Homo sapiens: one gene and its partners. The protein of the gene in region 1 purifies or fractionates together with the protein of each later gene. This does not show direct contact. Each region holds a gene or a part of one and is shown on either strand. Other genes may lie near its edges. The genes, in order: FARSB, RANBP3, SWAP70, GART and GHRL.

The links.
Region 2: the proteins of FARSB (region 1) and RANBP3 fractionate together in Homo sapiens (co-fractionation; one large-scale study listed by BioGRID). This does not show direct contact.
Region 3: the proteins of FARSB (region 1) and SWAP70 fractionate together in Homo sapiens (co-fractionation; one large-scale study listed by BioGRID). This does not show direct contact.
Region 4: the proteins of FARSB (region 1) and GART fractionate together in Homo sapiens (co-fractionation; one large-scale study listed by BioGRID). This does not show direct contact.
Region 5: the proteins of FARSB (region 1) and GHRL purify together in Homo sapiens (affinity purification with mass spectrometry; one large-scale study listed by BioGRID and IntAct). This does not show direct contact.

Annotation. Positions count from the first base shown.
Region 1 is NC_000002.12:222,641,523-222,646,869, forward strand, and holds part of FARSB (phenylalanine--tRNA ligase beta subunit), read right to left. Parts: exon of another isoform or gene 5,279-5,347; intron 4,825-5,278; exon of another isoform or gene 4,100-4,824; intron 3,400-4,099; exon of another isoform or gene 3,363-3,399; intron 1,484-3,362; coding exon 1,329-1,483; intron 1-1,328.
Region 2 is NC_000019.10:5,967,010-5,972,356, reverse strand, and holds part of RANBP3 (ran-binding protein 3), read left to right. Parts: intron 1-5,347. UniProt on the Homo sapiens protein: Acts as a cofactor for XPO1/CRM1-mediated nuclear export, perhaps as export complex scaffolding protein. Bound to XPO1/CRM1, stabilizes the XPO1/CRM1-cargo interaction. In the absence of Ran-bound GTP prevents binding of XPO1/CRM1 to the nuclear pore complex.
Region 3 is NC_000011.10:9,739,870-9,745,216, reverse strand, and holds part of SWAP70 (switch-associated protein 70), read right to left. Parts: intron 5,037-5,347; coding exon 4,870-5,036; intron 1-4,869.
Region 4 is NC_000021.9:33,510,361-33,515,707, forward strand, and holds part of GART (trifunctional purine biosynthetic protein adenosine-3), read right to left. Parts: intron 1,099-5,347; coding exon 892-1,098; intron 1-891. UniProt on the Homo sapiens protein: Trifunctional enzyme that catalyzes three distinct reactions as part of the 'de novo' inosine monophosphate biosynthetic pathway.
Region 5 is NC_000003.12:10,284,910-10,287,756, forward strand, and holds the end of GHRL (appetite-regulating hormone isoform 1 preproprotein), read right to left. Parts: intron 2,573-2,847; exon of another isoform or gene 2,379-2,572; intron 1,904-2,378; coding exon 1,795-1,903; intron 986-1,794; coding exon 966-985; 3' UTR 757-965; downstream 1-756.

The DNA of each region.
Region 1 (5,347 bases):
TTCTGATTAATAGGTGTTGGGTGGCGACTAAGACTGCATTTCTAGTAAGTTCTCATGTGATTCAGATGCTGCTGGTCCATGGACTCACTTTAAGTAGAAAACATTTTAAGTTGCTTTCCTAATTCTGTCTGATCATAAAAATCACAAGGTGACTGGTAAAAATACAGATTCTCACTGGGCAGGTTTGGGAAACGAACTCTCAGGAGTTATCCTTGATCCTAAAATAAAAGCATCTGATTGTCCCATAGGAAACCAACTGAGTCAACTCTAAAATTTTAACCATCCTTAACCTAATGCCTAATTATCACCATTTCACCAATACCCATCACTCACCTAAACCCTCACAATTTCAGAATCTAGCCCATCAGTTAGAACTCTTATTCTTTTGCAGCTGACCAGATAATGAAGAAGTAATCAAAAATAAAAACAATTTTTAATAGCTGTTCATTTTTTTCACTGTATATATTTGTTATCCTCTATCTTTTTTTTTTTTTTTGAAACAGAGTCTCCCTCTGCTGCCCAGGCTGGAGTGCAGTGGTGCAAATCTCGACTCACTGCAACCTCCACCTCCCAGGTTCAAACGATTCTGTGCCTCAGCCTCCTGAGTAGCTGGGATTACAGGTGCACGCCACTATGCCTGGCTAATTTTCATATTTTTAGTAGAGACGGGGTTTCACCATGTTGGCCAGGCTGGTCTTGAACTCCTGACCTCAAGTGATCCACCAGCCTCGGCCTCCCGAAGTGCTGGGATTATGGGCATGAGCCACCATGTCCAGCCCCTCTATCTTCATTAAATGAAAAGCTGGAAGGGGCCTTATAAATCTTCTTCATTATAGATTAGGAAATTGAAACTAGAGAGGCCAACTAACTTGCTCAAGATCACAGAGCCGTCATAAGATCTTTGGTTTTTCCAGTTAGGAGGCTTCACTCCTGAGCTTCCTTAGAACTCATAATGTAAGGGTATTTATTGCTAGCTCTCCATTTCCTCTCAACTTTTAACACATCCAGTGAACTACTCATTCCAATTAGATCACGGAGGGGAATCACACACACCTGCTAAATAATTTTTTAAGACGCCATAAAAGCATTAAACACCAGTTTTAAAATATGTTCTCAAAGATGAATGGCTATGACTAAAATTTTCATGGAAATTTTCAAATGGCTACAATCTGCATGAATCTAATTCCTCAAATCAACCCTCTATTGAGAGCTAAAGCTACGTTCCTCTACAAGCTTTTTCCTAGAAATTTAAACATGGCTGCTGATAATGACAAGGAAAGAAAAGAAAACCCAACTTAGCAAAGTCTTTAAGGAACATATTTCCTTACCTTTCTTTGAAGACCTGAAGTCCTCGAACCAATCCTTCCAGACACAGGAGATCATATCTATTGGCAGGGACGTCAATTTTGTAAAGAACAACATCAGAGGCTCCTGCTGCCTTTACATTACCTTGTTCTTTACTTATTATTTCCTTCTCAGATGTCTAAAACAAGCCAAAAAGTAATGATAAAAATTAAATAATTTAAACTCTCTTTAAAAAGTAAAAGTTGTCAGCCCTATAAGGCAGTAACTACATTATACATATTTTCTATAACAAGAACATGGGATTATTATATCCACGACAAAAACAACATGAAAATATTAAGTGTTATAATCATAGCAGACAGAAAAATACTTCAGCTTTAACTGAGTTCAGATATCTGGCAACCTCAATCACCCCAGAAAAGCACAAATCCATCTAAACAAGGGTCAGCAAGCAATAGCCCCCTGGCCAAATCATACCTGATACTTGTTTTTGTAAATAAAGATTTATTGGAACACAGACAGACCCATTCATTTACATATTATCTACTGCTACTTACACACTGCAATAGCTGAGTTGTAACAGAGACTATAGAGCCAAAAAGCCTAAATATTTACTATCTGGCCCTTTACAGAAAAAGTTTTCCCATCTCAAGCTAAAAGAAAATTAAAACATCACCAAGAACATAAAGTAACAACAACAAAAGTGTCAAAGGGGTAAAAGAAAGATGATTCACTAAATAAAAGAAACACAACTTCTTATAGGATGACTCTAAAACCTAAATCCTGTGGGCACCCAAGTCCACATGAGAATGAGAGGGGTAGTATAAAAACTAAAAACAGTCAGAGACCATCAGACACTGGTAAAAATTAGAAGGGATAATAGGTACAATGGGAAGCAAACTAGTGATAGCAAAGGGATAGTGCAGCAGAATGAAGGCAGCCAAGAGGGAGATGACAGAAGAAACACCACTAGAATCACGTTTAATGCAGTGGCAAAGAGTTTAGAATATCTCAAGCACCACACTACAGCAGAGTAACAGATTTTCTTAAACATAACCACTGCAGAGAAGTTACACTCTATTCCTTATGTTTACTACAGCAGGGAACTGTAAATATATTTAAGAAATTTTCACTTGAAATGATTACAAGTTGTATTCCAACTGTTAATGTTACGCTTTAATTATGTGGAAACTCCACTTAACCAGAATTCCTACTATTTCCACCACCAACAACCTGCTAAAATAACTGATGGATTTCTATCAAAATATGTAATGATTTTTGTTTTACATGATGCCCTCCCACTGCCACAATATAAGTAGTTCAAATTTTTGTCCAAATTAAGAATTATATCCACATTTGCACAATATGCAGAGAAATTCACTTCTGGCCACGAGTATTATGTGCCAAAGTCCCACCTGAGGAACCACAGGAGTCTATGCAATGCTGGGGCTGTACAAGGTGGTGCTGGGCTCCAAAAAACCTCTACCTTGGGCATCTCAAACTTAGGAGGCAAATTTTTATAATTAGGGAAAATGAAAAATGAAAAACAAGAGAATGAAGAGGAGGAGGAAGGAGTAAAAAGGGGGAAAAGAAAAGAAGGGGAATGGGGAGAGGCAAAAAGAGAAGAGGAAGAATTCGAGTTTAAACAATGTTCAATCAAAGGGGTTAATAAAATTACTGTTTCAATAGTGAAGAAAGCTGAGTCACCTCCCAGGAGATGGCAGATCTCAGGAGGGACCTATATACAGAGAAGATAATATAATAACCGGAGAAATGAAGGCATCTGCATTCATTTTTCAGCAGCACCCCCTTATCCACAGGGGATATGTTTCAAGCTCCCCAGTGGATGCCTGAAACATTGGATAGGACTAAATGTTACATATACCATGTTTCTTCCTATACATACATACCTATGAAAAAGTTTAATTTATAAATTAGGCACAGTAAGAGATTAACAACTAATAATAAAATAGAACAATTAAAATAATATACTATAATAAGAGTAATGTGAATGTAGTCTCTTTCTGTCTCAGAATTTCTTATTGTACTATACTCACCTATTTTCAAACCACAGTTTGCTGCAGGTAACCAAAACTGTGGAGGCAAAAAACTGTGGATAAGGAGGAACTACTGTAAAAAAAGATCTAATTCCTTTGCAAAAAAAAAAAAAGACACAGAAGCTTACATCTTCTTTCAGTTTCAGCATCTCAGCTCATACAATGACCATATGTAAAGACTGAATTTGTCAGTGCTACCTGACAATAATCTTACAGAAATTTAAAATCACATAAATTTCAGAGTCAAAAAAGAAAACCATAAAGATCATATAATCCAAACCCCTTATTTCACAAATGAAAAGGAGGCCCAGAGAGACTCGTCTGGACTATAGAGTTCAGACAGGCAAAGTAATTGTCCATAGTTACACAGCTAGTAAATGTTAGAACTAGAACTCAAATAATCTAACATCCAGTCCAACACTCTTAGATATCACATAATTTCAAACATAATTCTGAGGTGTAGTAAAATTACGAATAGCAACTTATAAACTACAGAAATCTCAGCCAATTTCTCAAGTATACAAATAGATTAGTACAAAGATGATCTTTCTGTAACATTAGTAAGGCAGCAGGAAAAATAAGGTAAGATAATGTACAATTTTTTAGCCTGAACATTTTTTAACTTTACACCTAAGGTAGTGTTATAAAAGCACTGAATAGGTGAAGATAGAAGGCTTAGGAAAAAAATAATACTAACTATCAGAAAATTATCTTTTAAATTAAAGTATGTCTTTTTTTTTTTTTGAGAAAAAAATTGGGCTTTTATTGGCAATTACAAAAGTAATAGATTTTCTTACATAATACGTTCCTTCAGTAATATATTTTTCAAGTATTTTACCATAGAATTTCTAAAGTACTTTGTCATTGACCCCATAATTTATTATAAAGTAGGTCCCATAATCACATTTTTTGGAAGTTGCTGAAATTGAGATAAAAAATATTGTTTTTTTATGAGAAAAACTGGACAAAATACAGAATGGCCAAAACTAGATTAACTGGCTCAGTTATGTCTACTAGGTGAAAGAAAATACAGAATCTGTTACTGTAGAAATTTTAAGAGGTTTTGAGTCAGTTCCAGTATAAAAATAAGGCCAAAGTTCTCCTGTAAAATCATCATTAAAAGTACAGAGAAGAGATCTATCATTCAAATTATAAAAGGAAACCTCATTCATTTCACAGTCTAAAAAAATGCCAATCTTACTAGGTGTTACTTTTGGCAGCAGAATAATTTCCTTATGGCCCAATACAATATAATTATTCCGACTAGATTACCAAATTCTCCATAATCCATCCTGTACTAAAATTGGTTGACTCTTCCTCCTTGTGGGAGGAGAGTCACTACAGACACCAAGAATCCATTCAGGCATGTCTTTAACTTCTACTTCCCGGTACTGCCTGCCACAATTTTATCCCTTAGAACCCAGAACAGCTGGGAGCAGATAAAATCTTCTTGGGTTATGAGGTAAGTTTTGTGTTGTATTTCCATATCGCACAGTTTTTCTATCTTCTGAGACTATAAGTTTACGATGTGCTGCTTCAGGATCTAGAATTACATCTACTTGAAATCGCTTGATAATTTTGTTTTGGCCACAATATTGTGGAGACAGATGGTAACCATATTCTTTTAATTTGAATAAAAAAGGTTTAGGGAATTTTAAATTCTTATGTCTGTGATAGATATCCTTAACATCAGCCAGTAATTCCAGTTCTGACTTCACATATATGCTCTCTATCTTCTTTAGTAGATATTTTAATGAGGAGGTATAATCTGAAAATTTTGTTAGGCTTTCATTTAGTTGTGCTAAAATATCCATCTCGTCATCTTGTAATTGCCCAAAAACAGTCTCTTGCTCATTTTGCAGAAATAACCTAAGTTGCTCAAATTCAGACTTGACTTCTTCTGCCGTATGTTTTACCTTTTTCTTCAGTTCCAGTGATTTTCTGGTTTGTATAGTTATGACTTTTTCAATTAGTTCCACTCTCTC
Region 2 (5,347 bases), on another chromosome or scaffold:
TGCTTCCTCCTCAGTAGTCTTGGCACTTAGAGCTGCCACACAGCACTAGCTATGGATCTCAGCCCTGGATGGGCTTCACACTTGTTTAAGGAGGTTGTCAGGGAAAATCAAAACTGCTGCCTGGGCTGCACCATTGGAGATGGTTCCAGGAGTTCTAGGGTGTCTGTGGTTTTAAAGAGCTCCACAGATGTTTAACAACATGAAGCCAGAGTTGAAAACCACAGGCAGAAGTTGCAAACTTGCCTGAAGGGCAAGCAGACATATTTAATTTGGCCCATTTAGGTTTTTGTTTGTAATTAGGAGCCAACACTTAAAATTCTGAGATTTCAGAGGGGAAAAAAATTGTATTTCTGATTTCTCTCAGAAAACAGCAACCACCCTTGGCCTGCATTCTTGCACAGCAGTGATTTTTCAGTGCTAAGGAACAGCTGCGCCTGTGGATAGATTAGATTGGATATTGTGGTCTCCGCCATGTTACTTGGGGCCTAGCCCACTTCCTTCTCTTCCAGTGCCTGTGACCTTGGTTGGTATTTGGGTTTCAATCCTATTATACAGACTCCTAGACTCTGCATTCTCTACACTTAGAGTGCTCTTTAGCTAGAACCTTAGCATAAAGCACCTCATGGTCTGTAATTTAGGATTTAGTGTCCTTGGAATGCTAGAACTCAGATAGCATATGGCAGCAGTTCTCAAAGATGGTCCGGGGCCCTGCAGTCCCCAAGACCTTTTCAAGGGGACTGCAAGTTCAAAACTATTTCATAACAACACAAAGACACTATCTGCTCTTTTTTCACTCTTATTCACTTGAAAATGGACAGTGGAGTTTTTTTCCAGAGGTTATTGGATGTGTGATATGCCAACAGATGAACTATAGAAGCAGATAAGAGAATTCAGGCCGGGCACAGTGGCAAACACCTGCAGTCCCAGCTACTTGGGAGGCTGAGGTGGGAGGATCTCTTGAGCCCAGGAGTTCAAAGCCAGCCTGGGCAACAAAGCCCCTCTCTTTAATAAAAAAAAAAGAGAGAGAATTCAGCTATCTTCTATTAAGTCAGACGTTAAAGACATTTGTCAAAATGTAAAATAATGCCACTCTTCTCAGATTTTTTTAAATACTTATTTTTCATAAAAATATGTTATTTAACTAAACCTTTCTGGAGTTTATTATAATCTTAAGTATTTTGAAATTGTCTTAGGTTTCATTTCTAATATGGTGTCAGTAGTAGCTACATCCCACATTTCCAAAAGCTCTTGGGGATGTTCAGTCATTGACAAGCGTGGAAAAGGGTCCCGAGACCAGGAAATTTGAGAACCACTGGCATGTGCTAGCAGAGCCTCAGTGTACAGTGTGGGTTTCTCCGCTGCCTTGCCAACATCGGGAGAATTCTAAACCAGAGCTGACCAGCAGGTTCCCATTGGCAACTTGTGGCATGGTTGGAAGCACCTGGATTGGCTGTCCTTGGTTTGTGTCTTGCCTTCTGCCCTAGAAACATGGGCAAGTTGTCTGACCTTAGCTCTTGCATCTGTAAAATGGGAACGATGATACGCAAGTCTGAGGATTGTGGTGTGAGAGAGAATATACTTCTGGTAATTGACCTACTGGAATGTGGAGATACATGTCAGTTACTTCTAGCTGTGATTCTCCTAATTGGATGCCTGAGTAGAGAGAAAGCACCCTGTGAGTTATACCAGGGTTTTTCCACCTCAGTATTCTTGACATTGGGGCTGGTGGTGGCCATCTTGTGCTTTGGAGGATGTTGGGTAGCCCCTCTAGCCTCTACTCATGTGATGCCATAGCACCCAGTCATCCCACCCATCCACTCCCAGTCATGAGAAGATAAAAGGTCTCCAGACACTGTCCAGTGTCCCCTTAATGTCAGAATTGCCCCCACTTGAGAACCATTGGGTTATGGGATTTCATTGACACCCAAGAGACTTTGTGTTCCATAGTTATCTAACCTACTGAGGTCGTAGGAGCCTGTACACATTTAAAGCCACAGTCTGAGTGGGGAGGGAGAGAGGCGGTGAATCCCAGAAGCCAGGGTGGGGGGTCACCCTGGTTTGTGCCATCTAATCTATTGGGGATTTATTTTGGTGTATAATGTGAGTTAGAGATCCAGCTCAATTTTTTTGCCCAAGATTAATGCAAGGTTTCTTGCCCTCAGCTCAGTTGACATTTGGACTTGGGTCACTTGCTGGTAGGGCACTGTTCTGAGCCTCCTAGGATGTTGGTCAGCATCCCTGGTCTCCATCCACTAGATGTCTGTAACAGTTTCCTCCACACCCCCACAAACATGACAGTCACAATGTCTCCAGATTTTGACCAGTGTCTCCAGGGAGATGAAGTTACTCCTGGGTGAGAACCACTGGTCATAGGATCAAAGGAACCTACCCAGGAATAAATTAATTGCCAGCTAGAGTTTAAGGCCCTTCCTCCCAACCTTATTTTTCTATTCTGGCCTTTTGGCAGCTGAGTAGGCCTCAATGGACATCATATCCCTCTTCAGGAAGAACAGTCTTTTCCTTGACCTTTAACACTGCCTCTGGTCCAGGGTGAGGACCTGACAGAATGTAAGGGCTGGGAAGAACCTTCAGGGATGCCTGAGTCCTGGCTGCACCATTTCACAGGGGCTGAAGCCCGAGGCCATGGAAGCAGGTAGGGCTGGCTAGGGCCAGTGCGCCTGTCTCCAGCCATGGAGTCTAGGAGTTCATGCTTGTCCTTCCCGGTGAGTCAGTAAACTCTAGGTAATGGGCACTCGTTCACCCCTGAAAACTGACCCGCGTAGGGCACTGCATTTCGCTGTCGCTGTTTATGGTGTTCAAAGAAAGGGAGGAAATTCTAGAGACAGTAGTAGTTACTCCATACACATGTTTAGAAGGCAGGCCTTGCCTTTTGCAGTAAGTTTAAAATGCCTTTGCTAAATTAAACTCCCCCAGGTTTGCCACAGAGAATTTTGGGAACTTATTTACCCAGAATTAATTCCTGCGTTGCATCTGTGAGAGCAGAGCGTGAGTGGAAACGGTCCTTGAGAACTTGCCTTTCTCTGGGGGAGAGGGTGAGAAAACAGGCAGTTACCCTCTGCTCAGAGGAGAGAGGATGTTTTGCAGCATTGATGGTGATGGCCACTGGGTCCTAAGAGTCCAGAGCCTGGGCCCCAACCTTTACACTGGATAAATCCAGATTTGTCAGCATGGCCTGCAAGGCTGAACGTCCTGTGGGCTCCACCCAGCCCTTCCCGTTCTCCTCCCCTCCAAACATGGGCCTCCAGGCTCTTCCTTTCCTTAGAACCTTTGACTTGGGGTCCCCTCTGCCTGGGATCCCCTGCCTTCACCTGGCTCATCCCTGCTCACCCTTCATGTGTGAGCTTCAGCGAGGCCTTACCCATTCACTCACTCTCTCCCACCATCCTGTGGTATTTTCTCTGCAGCACCCAGCTCCAGAACTACCCAGTTATCTCTGCACACAGCAGGTACTTGTTTGTTTTCTCTTTCCCAGTAGAGAGCTGCGGCCTTGTCTGCCATTTCTTTCCTGTCTCCAGTGGCAAGCTCGGTGCCTAGCACAAGTCTGTGCTTGGTAGATCCTGCTGGTGAGAGCAAGGCTTGGCTGCTCGGCTCGGCCTGCCTTCAGATCCCACCTGTTTCCTGTGACCTCAGAAGGGCTCAGGCATTCCGAGCACCTGAGCGTTTGCCTTGAGTGTCCCAGGCGTCCAGGCAGCTCTTGGATCCAACCATTCCACCCCCTAAAAGGGGTCAGACTCTGACGCATTTGTCGTTGCCGGGCACTGGCAGCTGTCCTTGAATCCAAGGCCTATGCTTTAAGGTGGCATCAATATGTTTGCAATCTTCCGAGCATAATAATGCTACCAGTGCCAGTGTGGAATCATCCTGTGTGCCAACCACTTCCCCAAACACGGCATGTGCAGCATTTCATTTCATCCTTGCCGAAGCTGCCTGGGGTGAAATAACAGCCCTGATATGCAAATGAAGACATTGTGCCAGAGGTACATTGTCTTATCTGGGATCCCAACCGCAAGTAAGTGGCCAGGGCAGGTTTGAACACACACAAAGACCAGAGCCCGCGCTCTCCAGTATCATCAGTTTTGCTCTGCTGCCTCAGCATAAATTCTGTAGTTCTTGGATTTCCTTCCTGTAAGCTTCCGTGTAGAGAGGAGGGGATTCCTGTTGTCTCTACTGGAACTTTCCCGAGTCTTCAGCCACTTGCATGTTGCCTCAGCTGTGTTGGTGTCACACCACCTAGTGGCGGAACAGAAAAGTGCCGTTAAAGCTGGATCCTCCATCTCTCCACGCAGTTTTTTCTTTTTTCTTTCTTTTCTTTTTTTTTGGAGACAGAGTCTCACTCTGTCGCCCAGGCTGGAGTGCAGTGGTGCTATCTCAGCTCACTGCAACCTCCACCTCCTGGGTTCAAGTGATGCTTGGGTCTCAGCCTCCCGAGTAGCTGGGATTACATATCCCACCAGGCCCAGCTAATTTTTGTATTTTGGGTAGAGACACGATTTCACCATGTTGCCCAGGCTGGTCTCAAACTCCTTTCCTCAAGTGATCCACATGCCTCGGCCTCCCAACGTGCTGGGATTACAGGCATGAGCCACTGAACCCAGCCATCCATACAGTTGTAGGCAGAGTTGCTGACTTTGTATAACTTTATGGGGTTTCTGTTCAGAAGTGCAAGTTCTGCCCCCCGGGGCTTACGGTCTGGGTGGCGCAGGAGTGGAAGCTTAGAAGGGTTTGGCTGCAGGGCTGATAAAGGTAGAAATAAAGAAGGCAGAATGTGGCTTGGCCCTCATGGGGTGGAGTGGGATATGAGGAGGATGTCATGGGGATGCGTCTATGATGAATGAGACTAGATATGTAAAGTACCTACCTCGGAGTCCAGTAAAGGCCTTTTAACAAATGCCTGTTGCCCCTGCAATGCTTGTTGGAAGTGTAAGTATCTGGTGGTGAGATGAGAGTGGTTGGAAGTTGGCTTGGAGTTCGGTAGTTGAAGGTAATGCCAAGATGATGAGCATTCCAGAAAGAAGTACATAAAATGTAGGATATCATCAGCTCCAAAAAGTGTGTCCCCATAATCTCCATGAGACCAGTTGAAAGTTATAGAAATATATTCGAGTATTGAGAAAAGAACGGAGTCATCCAGGGTCCCACCGCCTTCCACTAGCTGGGCTGGAGAACCCGAGCATGCTATACACGGAGATCCGCAGAGGCATCACCTAGCAACTGCATGTTTGAGATCAGTTCCATTCCGTACCAAAGAATCAGTTGGAGGACAGACCTGACACGTCAGTGACAGATTTACCTTTGTGCTGTGGCACAGAACTGTTTATAATAATTT
Region 3 (5,347 bases), on another chromosome or scaffold:
AGCTAAAAGTACCAGAGCCAGGAATCAAACCGTGGCCTCATTCCAGAGCCCAGTCTCTAACCTTCAAATATATGAAAAGTATTATATCAAATGTAAGAGGGACTGTTGTTCCATGTGGTCCCATTGGATCCATTCATTCATTCAAAAAAATTTCCCTGGGTACTTACTGTGTGCCAGGTACGAGTTGCTGGGAATACAGACACGACTAAGGTGTACTCCAGGGTGTTACAGATCCAAAGTGGGTAAGAGTTACAACAGGACAGATTATGGCTCAGCCTCAAGAACTTTCCAATAACTCGATTTTTCTTAATTTTTTCTTTTTTGTTTTTTTCTTTTTTGAGACAGGCTGGAGTACAGTGGTGCAATCTCAGCTCACTGCAACCTCTACCTCCTGGATTCAAGTGTCTCAGCCTCCCGAGTAGCTGGGATTATAGGCATGCACCACCACGCCCAGCTAATTTTTGTATTTTTAGTAGAGACAGGGTTTCACCATGCTGGCCAGGCTGGTCTCAAACTCCGAGCCTCAAGGGATCCGCCCGCCTCAGCCTCCCAAAGTGCTGGGATTAGAGCGTGAGCCACCATGTCCGGCCAATAACTTGAGTATTCTACATTTTAAATGAACAGTTTTCTTCTGAGTTCTCATTCAGAAGTGGCTAGATCACCTTCAGGATTACACATAAAAAAATAAACTTCATAGCAGAAAGGGTGACTATAGTCAATCATAATTTAATTGTACATTTAAAACTAACTAAAACAGTATAGTGGACTGTTTGTAAGACTAAGGATAAATGCTTGAGGTGATGGATACCCCATTTACCCTGATGTGATTATTACACATTGTATGCCTGTATCAAAATATCTCATGTACCTCACAAATATAAACACCTACTGTGTACCCACAAAAATTAAAAGTTAATAAAAAACTTCAATCGTAATTTTTAAAATTACAAGATCTGGCCAGGTGCAGTGGCTCAAGCCTGTAATCCCAGCACTTTGGGAGGCCGAGGCGGGTGGATCACGAGGTCAGGAGATCAAGACCATCCCGGCTAACACGGTTAAACCCCGTCTCTACTAAAAATACAAAAAATTAGCTGGGCGTGGTGGCAGGCGCCTGTAGTCCCAGCTGCTCAGGAGGCTGAGGCAGGAGAATGGCTTGAACCTGGGAGGCAGAGCTTGCAGTGAGCCGAGATCACGCCACTACACTCCAGTCTGGGTGACAGAGCGAGACTCCGTCTCAAAAAAAAAAAAAAAATTACAAGATCTACGTGTTTCAAGCTAAAGTTCTTGTCTTTCATTTAAACAATTTACTATAAAAAGTTTCTCTTTTTTTTTAAGACACTGTCTTTTTAAGAGACTGACAGAGAAAGAACTATCCATTAAAAGAATAATGAGATTCCAAATATTCCACGAATGATCGGCTGTTGCTTTAAGAAAGGAGTGAGCAAACAAATTTACAAGAAAAAAAGAAACAACCCCATCAAAAAGTGGGCGAAGGACATGAACAGACACTTCTCAAAAGAAGACATTTATGCAGCCAAAAAACACATGAAAAAATGCTCACCATCACTGGCCATCAGAGAAATGCAAATCAAAACCACAATGAGATACCATCTCACACCAGTTAGAATGGCAATCATTAAAAAGTCAGGAAACAACAGGTGCTAGAGAGGATGTGGAGAAATAGGAACACTTTTACACTGTTGGTGGGACTGTAAACTAGTTCAACCTTTGTGGAAGTCAGTGTGGCGATTCCTCAGGGATCTAGAATTAGAAATACCATTTGACCCAGCCATCCCATTACTGGGTATATACCCAAAGGATTATAAATCATGCTGCTATAAAGACACATGCACAAGTATGTTTATTGCGGCATTATTCACAATAGCAAAGACTTGGAATCAACCCAAATGTCCAACAATGATAGACTGGATGAAGAAAATGTGGCACATATACACCATGGAATACTATGCAGCCATAAAAAAGGATGAGTTCATGTCCTTTGTAGGGACATGGATGAAATTGGAAATCATCATTCTCAGTAAACTATCGCAAGAACAAAAAACCAAACACCGCATATTCTCACTCATAGGTGGGAACTGAACAATGAGAACACTTGGACACAGGAAGGGGAACATCACACACCGGGGCCTGTTGTGGGGTGGGGGGAGGGGGGAGGGATAGCATTAGGAGATATACCTAATGCTAAATGACGAGTTAATGGGTGTAGCACACCAGCATGGCACATGTATACATATGTAACAAACCTGCACATTGTGCACATGTACCCTAAAACTTAAAGTATAATAATAATAAAATTAAAAAAAAAAAAAAAGGAGTGAGAAGAGTTAACTGAGCAGCCTTTTACACAGGCCCTTGGCGTAAGATTATGTGCATTTCATTAGTGCCAGTTTTCCAACCCAACTCCAGGATGACTTCCCTTGATTTTTCTATCCAGAAAGGCCTATCCTGAGGAGCAAAGAACAAACCCTCTCTGCCAATCTGACAGAAAGTCCCTCTGAATCAGCCACAGCCTTCAGTGACTTCAGGAAAGAGGAACACATTTCACTTAAAAATGACCACTAGGCCGGGCGTGGTGGCTCATGCCTGTAATCCCAGCACTTTGGGAGACCGAGACAGGCGGATCACAAGGTCAGGAGATGGAGTCCATCCTGGCCAACATGGCAAAACCCCATCTCTACTAAAAATACAAAAATTAGCCAGGTGTGGTGGTGCGCGCCTGTACTCCCAGCTACTCGGGAGGCTGAGGCAGGAGAGTCGCTTGAACCCAGGAGGCGGAGATTGCAGTGAGCCGAGATCACGCCACTGCACTCCAGCCTGATAACAGAGCAAGACTCCATCTCAGAAAAAAAAAGGGAGCAGGGGGGCAAATTTGTCCATTTCAGGTTCCAAAAACTAAGAGAAAAAAAAATTTAGAATAATAAAATAATTATATTCATAAAATGCCCTTTGCACATTAAGAAAAAGTTAAATTTGTGTGCAGTACTTTCAGCATATTGGATCAGAGCTGTATGTAGAAGTTACATCTGGATTCAAAAGGTTGAAACCATTTTGCTATTGCTTAAATCAGAGTGTGCAAAATAATTAGCTGGAGTTTTTTGCCGTTGTTGTTTTGTGTTTTTTTTGAGACAGGGTCTCATTCTGTCCCCCAGGCTGTAGTACAGTGGTGCAAATGCAGCTCACTGCAGCCTCAACCTCCTGGACTCAAGTGATCCTCCTGCCTCAGCCTCCCAAGTAGACTTTTTTTTTTTTTTTTTTTTAAAGATGAGGTTTCACCATGTTGCTCAGGCTGGTCATAAACTCCTGGGTTCAAGTGATCCTCCAGCCTCGGCCTCCCAAAGTGTGGTGGGTGAGCCACACTTTGTGGTGTATTTTTCAGAAGCTTTGTGAGGTGATTCTGATACATAACATTGGTTAAAAAACCACTGGCTTCAATTATCCAAAATTATCCCTTATTCAAAATATCACTCATTCTATAAACACTAAATAACTAAGACTAGTATTTCTAGAATTATCTGGTTCCCTCTGTGATCTAGTCTCTGCTGTGTCATAATCAACTTCCCACAAAACTGCAGTAATACATATAGCATATTTCACCTGCGAATTCTTTGCACAAAAACAATCTATTAACTCTCAACACGGCTCAAATTATGAGGTGGCTCAAAAAATGTTGAGTGTCATGTAGAACGTCACTCTGGACGTCACATGGCACTCAAACATTCCCGTAGAGTGACTCTTCTGCTAAAATCACTGCCGAGTGGCACTGGAGGGGAGTTCCAAGAACCTGATTAACCTCACAGTGCAGTGAATGTGCACCTGTGGGGCCTATATATGCCTGGCAATATGCTACATGCTTAATTTTCTATTTAGAAAATAATTTTTCCTTAAAAAAATTTAAATTTAAAATCTAAATGTCCAAAACAATTTATTTATTTTTGAAGTCACTTTTGGCAAAATATACAACTAAAGATGGCTTCTTCTTTCTCTTCCTATCTAAAGATTAAAGAAACATCTTTTGCTGCTCCACATGTAAAATGGCAGCCATGGAAAATCTACCCTAGCTCATCTCATAACTGCTCCCCAAAACAGGGGGTCAGAGATCAAAGACTGGACCCTGTGCTGCTACTGTAGTGAATACTTTTTAGTGTTGTCTCCCATCCCAGACACCTTAAATAATGTAAATGGGGCAGCAAAGTAGAAACTGGCAGAGGATAGGCTCAATTTTTCCCTTTGGGAGTCTTCATTTTATTTTGTCCTCCCTGCTGCCATGAAGGCCCAAAATTGAGAATTTTCATCTGCGAACATGACTATCATAAAGTTCTAAGGGGAAAAAAAATCTAGGTTTCAAATACTTTTAAAATTAGGATTTCAAGTAGTAATTACTGAAGGAATGTTACCAATCCTGAATGACCAAATAGAAACTGCATATTTCTTCCTTATTCCTCAAAACCTGACGGCAACGTTGGCCTGAACAGGCCTCTGCCTGCATACCAATGGCCCTCTCTGGTCTGGAGCGTGTTGAAGATGCCAAGCTCTTATCAGAGGTAATTCTGGGTTTGTGGATTTTCTCGAATAAGACTAAGGGTACCTCATCAAACATACCTACCAGACTGCTCTAAAATAGGCCCTTATTTAGCCCCAGAAGCAAGGGTTTCCCAGCGCCTCAGAATGAAAAGAAACACTCCAGCCGGTCGAGTCTCCACAGTCTTTCTAATCTGGACAGCACCTCGAGCTCAGTCACAGCCAGAGCAGAGACACTTCTCCCTCTCCACCAGAGTGTTAGTCATTCCAAGAAACTGTATTAGCCCAGGCAAAGTACATAAAGGCAAAGTCTGCAAACAAATCTGGCACCTGGCCTGAAGCTTCCGCACTGTCTCTTCATCTTGCCGGGCCTGTCTCTCATCTTCAAGAGCCTCCTGCAGCTTTAGGTACATGTCTTCCAGCTCCCGTACTCGCTGTAAATACTGTTCCAGTTCAGAGGACTTTTGAGCAACCTGTTCTTCCATCTGCTGTCTGATCTGTTGGTATAAAAGGGTCTTGTTTAAATGCAGGTTGACTTCTTTCTCAGGGAAAGCCTCACCTCCACCTGAGGGGTTGCCCACAGCTGCAGCCTCAGCCCATCAGGGTGGCAGGACCCTGTCCTTCAATCCTTGAACTTAAAGATGGAGGAGATGAGGGTACCACACCCAATCGCAATAGTGAAAGAGTCTGGGAAGAGCAAATTATAACCCAAATTATGTTCTGCCCTGCTGTATTTTCCATCCCTTCCACTCCACATTTTAAGACTCAAGTCAAGAAAAAAATGTTTCCTTGTGTAATTTCTCTCTAA
Region 4 (5,347 bases), on another chromosome or scaffold:
GCTCTGTTGCCCAGGCTGGAGTGCAGTGGCGCGATCTCGGCTCACTGCAAGTTCCGCCTCCTAGGTTCACGCCATTCTCCTGCCTCAGCCTCCCGAGTAGCTGGGACTACAGGCGCCCGCCACCACGCCCGGCTAATGTTTTGTATTTATTAGTAGAGACGGGGTTTCACTGAGTTAGCCAGGATGGTCTTGATCTCCTGACCTCGTGATCCACCCGCTTCGGCCTCCCAAAGTGCTGGGATTACAGGCGTGAGCCACCACGCCCGGCTGGGTCTCTCTTTCTTATTGTAATGTGAGCTGAAGGATGTTATCTTTCCGGCATTTGGAGAACCCGCTTGAAAATGAATCCTACACAATAGAGGAAAGAAAGGCAGATACAGGTAAAGTCAACAAGGTCTGACATTTTTTTTTTCTATTTTTTATTTTTGTGAATCTTCTCTGTATCGTTCCAATTTTAGTATGTGTCCTGCCAAAGCAAGCATGTGACGTCTTTGTTAGTGAATCTGAGTGGATTTTCTGCCCCTCTGCCAAGTTCTAGCACTTCTCGCAGAGTCCTGACTGATACAGTACTTGTCAGGGTGCTTGCTCGCTATTCCTTGAATCGAGCTGAGTGACAGCAGAGCCATGAGGTCTTGTGTGTAGGGAGATTACTTTGGGAAGCGATCCTGTGGGGTGTGGCTGTGCATGCATGAATGCTTAGTTCTGAGGCAGAAATGAAGAGATACGTGGTATCGCTGGGGTGGGTGCTGTCATGTTACATCTGTGTAAAGATAGTTGCCATAGCGATGGCTGCACTAAAAGGTGGGCAGAAAGCTTGTGAGGCAAGGCTGAGGTATAGCTAAAATTATACAGCTAAAATTATATATCTAAAAATGAGTAAGGAGCAAGTACCTTCAGCTCGTGCAACCACACTGCCAATCACCCAGGCTTCTTCCTTGTGCTGCTGGATATCCCTCAGAATCTGCTCTGTCTGCTCCTTTGATACCACAAGGACAGCGCCAACCCCACAGTTAAATGTTCTGGCCATCTCTTCCTCAGAGAGGTGTCCTTCCTGCTGCAACCATGAGAAGACCCTGGGGATCCTCCAGGTCTGGGCATCTGAAAAAAATAGACACGAATTGTTTGATTTTCCTACCTTCTCACACAAAGTACAAAAGTATGCACATATTCAAAGATGTGGAAATTATAATCAGGCTCTGCTATTTTATGTAGGGTAAAACTATAAATTGGCCTCTGAGAACTTTTTATTTGGGGATCCATTTGTACCTTAGACATTAAGAACATTTTTTTGTTGACACACTTGGCCAGTACTCACAAATGAGTGAGGTTTTGTGCTACATTAACTAACTAGACCCTTAGACATTCCCTAATGGATCAGATGAGCTAGTAGCTGAATTCCAGCAAAGGCCAGTATACCATCCTTTTGTGAATGTTTGGCTGAGTCTTTGTGATGACCAAAATGCACCCAAAGTACAATGCAAAACTAGATGGCTTATCTACATATTTAGAGAAAATGCATACACTCCTCAAGAAAAGTTATGTTAATGGAAGGCGGATCAACACCCTCTCCCTCTCATTCTTTTTAAAATTTAGACTTCCTAGGTCTGCTATAAGAATACATTCTCTCGGCCGGGCGTGAGAATCCCAACACTTTGGATTACATGCCTGTAATCCCAACACTTTGAGAGGCTGAGGTGGGCGGATCACGAGGTCAGGAGATCGAGACCACCCTGGCCAAGATGGTGAAACCCATTCTCTACTAAAAATACAATAATTAGCTGGGCGTGGTGGCGCACACCTGTAGTCCCAGCTACTCGGGAGGCTGAGGCAGGAGAATCACTTAAACCTGGGAGGTGGAGGTTGCAGTGGGCCGAGATGGTACCACTGCACTCTAGCCTGGTGGACAGAGTGAGACTCCGACTCAAATTGAAAAAAAAAAAAAAAAAAAAAAGAATACATTCTCTCTTATCACAAATAATACAACAAAAATCTCTAATAAAAATTTTTAGGTAAAGGTCTATATACACACACACAACATTTCTGAATTTAAAAAGAATCTGGATAGTTCTTTGGAATCTACGATTATGGGATCTGATTTTTTAAAAAAACTATACTGAATTAAATTATTTATGATGCTCTTAAGAAAGGGAAGCCAATGTGAACTCAGCTTTTTATTAAATAATAAGGTTTACTATCAGTTCTGCCTATTTATTTGATTTATTTATTGGATAATTTTTTTTTTCTTTGAGACAGGATCTGGCTCTGTTGCCCAGGCTGGAGTGCAGTGGCATGAACACGGCTCACTGTAGCCTTGATGTCCCAGGCTCAAGTGATCTTCTCACTTCATCCTCCTGAGTAGCTGGGACTACAGGCATGCGACACCATGCCTGGCTATTTAAAAAATTTTTTTTTTGGAGAGACAGGGTCTTACCATGTTGCCCAGTCTAGTTTTGACCTCCTGGGCTTCTTCTGCCTCAGCCTCCCAAAGCGCTGGGATTATAGGCATGAGCCATCATGCTCAGCTGATAATCAGTTTTTTAATACTTTGGAGTTGATACAATTTTTTTTTTTTTGAGACAGAGTATCTCTCTGTCGTTTAGGCTGGAGTGCAATGGCGTGATCTCGACTCACTGCAACCTCCGCCTCCTGGGTTCAAGCTATTCTCATGCCTCAGCCTCCCGAGTAGCTGGGATTATAGGCATGTGCTACCACACTTGGTTATTTGTGTGTGTGTGTGTGTGTCTCTGTGTGTGTGTGTGTGTGTGTGTGTGTGTGTGTATTTTTAGTAGAGACAGGGTTTCATCATGCTGGCCAGGCTGGTCTTGAACTCCTGACCTCAGGGGATCCATCCACCTCAGCCTCCCGAAGTGCTGGAATTACAGGGGTGAGCCACCATGCCCAGCCTGAAGTTGATACAATTTTAAAAATGAGGCGGGTGCAGTGGCTCAGGCCTGTAATCTCAGCACTTTAGGAGGCCGAGGCCCGCAGATCACGAAGTCAGGAGTTCGACACCAGCCTGGCCAACATGATGAAACCCCATCTCTACTGAAAATACAAAAATTAGCTGGGCGTGGAGACGCACATCTGTAATCCCAGCTACTCGGGAGGCTGAGGCAGGAGAATCACTTGAACCCGGGAGGTGGAGGTTGCAGTGAGCTGAGATCGCACTACTGTACTCCAGCCTGGGCGACAGGGTGAGACTCTGTCTAAAAAAATAAAAATAAATAAAAATAAAAATGAATCACATGTCTATGACTCTTAGATTCAATTCCATTTATAGTAGCTGGGAAATGTCCATTCTTAATAGTTGACCTCAGATTTAGTAACTACATTGTTCACTATGCTCTCAATAGTTAAAAGTAAATAGCAACTTAAAACTAAATAGTGGTACATCTGTAAAATGGAATACTTGTTATCAAAAATGATGCTACTAAGACAAGGAGATAGTGATGACATATTTAATGGCAGGGCAAGTAGCAGATTACCAAATTATGATCTTGTTTTAGTGAAGTTTTACAAAATATTTATAGGAAAAAACACTGGCAGACTAAGAGTCTAGCTTCTATAAATGAACAAGTACTTCATGAATAATGTAAGTTGTAATTTTAATGTTGAAAAGTCCTGGCCAGGTGTGGTAGCTCATGCCAGTAATCCCAGCGCTTTGGGAGGCTGAGATGGGCAGATTGCTCTGAGCCAAGGAGTTTAAGATCAGCCTGGGCAATGTGGTGAAACCCCGTCTCTACTAAAAATACAAAAAATAGCTAAGTGTGGTGGCGTGTTACCTGTGGTCCCAGCTACTTAGGAGGCTGAGGTCGGAGAATCACTTGAACCCAGGACGTTGGGGCAATAGTGAGCTGTGATCGCACCACGGAACTCCAGTTGGGGCGACAGAGTGATACTCTGTCTCAATAAAAAACAAACAAAAAAACCCCCAGAAGTCCTTACTTAAATCTGTTGTCAAAGTATGATTCCTGGAAGAAACTTTAGAGGCTGATGCAAGGAATTGTGCAATGGCTTTTATTGGAATACAGACATTTGTGTAACTCAAACTATAACTGCTTTCAGGAATATGGCTATATCACTTTCAGTTTCTTAATGAGGTGACTACTATGTTGTTTTTAACTAGTGGTGTGCTAGAGCCAGCTTGTAGAGACTGTTAAACAGCCATTTTTAAAGCAGCTATGATGGGAGTATTTATACCACAAAAACTGGCAAATGCACAAATCAGTCCTGCCTCCTTTCCCCATTCATCAGCAGGCCACTGTTTTTTAACTATTTGAAAAGGATGATGAATGAACTACTTATTAAGGTTCTTATATATGCTCACCAGAAAGCATTTCTACCCAAGGAATGTCTTGAACCACTAGTTTCACCCTCCTATGAATCCTTCAACTCCTTAATATGCTCAGTCCATGGACCTGGAAGAGACTCCCACTCAGCCTAGCCTGGCCTGTCTGTTTTGCTTCCCTGACTAGGCTGAAATCCCATCTGACCACTCTCCCAGCTTCCCTTGCCGATTTCCTCACTTCCACACAACCTACCTCTGACTCTTCAGTTCTCTCCGAGCTTCACATACGCTCTGACTCTTGGGTTAGCTCACCATATCTACTCACCTCTATCACTCTGACTGCTTCTCCCCAATGAATGACCCCAATACCTGCTTAGTTCAGCTGGATCAACCTAACTAATCTATTTTTTTTCTGTTCTTGCTTCAAAGCTATATACATGCTTTTGCTCTGGGAGAAAAACTACATGAGCAGCTTCACCTTCACCTGTGCCTTCAGTCCTGCTCACTGTCTCACTCCTGTTTGACCTTGACTGCTTTATCCACTCCTCTCTTCAAGCTCCCACCCCAGGCCTGATCATCTCACTAATACTTCACAGAGAAGTTATTTTATGTAAACTCCCTCAGTTTCTACTCCTTCAAATCAATGTGTATTAGTTGACTATAGCTGGAAAAGTTTCTCTGACTTTATTTTACAAAAACAAGGAAGGGAGGGGCTGGGCACAGTGGCTCATGCCTGTAATCCCAGCACTTTGGGAGGCCAAGGCGGGTGGATCATGAGGTCAAGAGATTGAGACCATCCTGGCCAACACGGTGAAACCCCGTGTCTACTAAAAATACAAAAATTAGCCGGGCATGGTGGCGGGCACCTGTAGTCCCAGCTACTTGGGAGGCTGAGGCAGGAGAATCAGTTGAATCCAGGAGGCGGAGGTTGCAGTGAGCTGCGATTGCGCCACTGCACTCCAGTCTGGCGACTCCAGCCTGGCGACAGAGCAAGACTCCAACTCAAAAAAAAAAAAAAAAAAAAAAACGAAAAACAAAAAACAAAAAAGAACACAGGGA
Region 5 (2,847 bases), on another chromosome or scaffold:
AAGTCAGTCCACATGTTTAGGCTAAGGTGGGCATGACCGAGTGGCCTTCCCCCGGGAAGACCAGTGTCGTAACTGGAATTAAGTTGTGGAACATAAGAGTCAAGGCTCGTGTCTGCTGTGAACTGGAGTTGAGGGAATGTTTGGGGATCCCACCTGGTATCAGTAAGGGAACCATGGCGACGGCCAGCCTTGCCCATGTGAGGCATTTGCTTTGTCAGGCCTTCTCAGTAGTGGAGAAGGGAGGAAGGAGAATGCAGCTCTTTCAGTGCTGTCTAGCAGTGCCCAAGAGCCGTGATTGGGCACCTCACTTAACGTCTAACTTCAGATTCACTCTTGGGCATTCCTGTCTTCCTCTCCAATCTTGAATGGATGTTGGCTTCGATAATGTCATCCTGAAGTTTCTTTGTCCACACAGCCCTGGCTGGTTGTTAATAAGCTGTTAATGCAGCCTTGCACTCAGGAAGCCCTGATGTTTAAAGGAACTGTGTCTTTGTTCTTCCTCTCTTCCCTCTTTCTCTTAGTCCCACTTTATCTCTTCTTTCTCTTCCTCTCCCTCCTCCTTTTCCCCTCTCCCTCCTACTCTCCCCCTTTCTCTCCTCCTTCTCTAAGAAACCCAGTCTTAATTCCACACAATGCATGCACATGCAGTAGCTTCTCTGCTTGAGTGAGCTGGTGTGATTAGGTTTTCTAAACATGCACATTGGCCTTGCTACTTGTCCTTTTATTCCCTTCCCACAGACCATAAACCAAGAATTATTTTTATTTGTATTATTTTGATTTTTTTAAAGTAAAATATTAACTTTTCCTCTTTGAAATAAATTCCCATTTGGAACATCAGCATACAGTTTGAACATTTATTCGCCTCCTGAGCTTGTACAACAGTCGTGGGAGTTGCTGCAGAAGCAAGCGAAAAGCCAGATGAGCGCTTCTAAACTTAGAGAGAGGTGAGTAAGGCTTGTGGGCGATCACTTGTCGGCTGGGGCCTCTGGAAAGCAAGAGGTTGAGTAAGAATGCTGGGTGCACCGTCCTGCTAGTGCTTTTCTTCCACGGTGGTGAGATTGGAGGTGGGATGTAATGGTGGGGGTTGTGGGGAAGCACTGGCCTTGGAGTCAGAGGGCGGCACTCAAGTGTGGACTGTTGTGCCCTGGGCAAGTCACCTCAAAGCTCTGAGTCTTGGTTTCCTCGTTTGCACAGCGGGGTGAATGCTACCCCTGCTGTTCCCCAGGGGTGACGGGTCACCGCCTTGGTGAGGACAGTGCTTTGCAGATGTGCAGGTGTTTCTGCCACCTCAATCAGTTGGGCGGTTTCTTTTTTTTCTTTTACAAGGTGAGGGGATTCAAAGCAAACCCTTTGCTTAACTCAGGAAGCTCTAATATTTGAAGGAACTGCTTAACAGGCTGCAGAACCTGTTCTGAGTGCTATTTTGGCACCAATTCCTTTTTGTTTGTGGAGTAAAGTTACGCAGTGAAGACGGTGTAACACCAAATAATTGTAGACTCTCACAATAGGTAAAATAGCTCCATTTTACAGTTAAGGAAGCTGAGGTTCAACTGAGGCCCCAAAGCTAGTTAATGTACTAGTTCTTAGAACATTCTTTGAACACAAAGACTATGATGAACTCCCTTCTGAGCCACTCACAAATACTAGCCAACCACTATCCTGCAGATCTTTGGGAAAGGGAAATTAGAAGTTCTTTTGGAGAGGCAGAGGTTGGGGAAAACTCATCACCCACAGAGTGAACTCCCATGTGGGGCTGCAAGGAAACCGAGCAAACCCAGTCCAGGCAGGACTCACCTTTGGCCTCTTCCCAGAGGATGTCCTGAAGAAACTTCCCCAGGGCCTGGCTGTGCTGCTGGTACTGAACCCCTGACAGCTTGATTCCAACATCAAAGGGGGCGTTGAACTAGGAGGCAGGGCAGGGAGGACCCAGGAGATGTCAGAGGTCATGCCCATCCCCATCTCAAAGGGGGCTCTGGGCTCTCTGCCTCTCTTCAGGAGTGGAGAGGGAGAATGGCCTTTGGGCCCCAGCAGGGACTGCTGAGTGACACCTCAGCCAGGTTCTCTTCCTTTCTCAGGACCACAGCTCACCTTCCCACTCACCATCTTTCAGACACTTACCTTGCACTCTCATGCCTCTCAGCCTTAGCCTCTAATGGGATTGCTGATAAAAGCTGTGGTGCCCCCTAGTGTGAGATTTTTTTTCTCCCTTGCAGTTTTGAAGACAAAAGGTTGAGTCACCAATGGCAGCATTTCAGGCCCTGGCAGGGGGTCTGCCCAGCATTCTCAGCACTGGCCTGCTGGCCTTCTATTCCTTCCCTGCTCCCAGCTCTTTCTCCTTTCTCTCTTGTCTGTTTCTTCTCCTTTTTCTCCTTCCCTAGGTATTTTTTCTCTCATATGCATAGACCTTTCTTTGATGCCTGGAAAATCAAAAGGAAGTTGATGTTTTCCTAGAAAGAGGCTCTGAGCCAAGTCCTTTCTGTGCTTCCATTTCTTCCCCTCTACAGGGAGAGCGCCTCATCTCTTCCATTTTCCAGGTATTCCTGAGATGATTTATTGGAGCTCAAAGCTTTGGGTAAGTGGGAAGGAGCTCTGCTGCAGCCACATGGCAGACTTTCCTTGAGAGCAGAGATTGTCTCTGCCAGTGGCTACCTCGGTGCCTGGCCATATTGGGCACTGACTTATCTGAGTCAGGGAAGGATCTTAGTGCTGGGTCATTTGGTCCTCACAGTAGAAGCCCAAGGAGTTGGAGGCCAAGGACTAGAATGCAGGACTTTTAAACCCACTTGGCCCTGAAAACTGCTTTAGTCCTATTGCCCTTCCTCTGTGTGAGGCCAGGCGTCCTCAGTG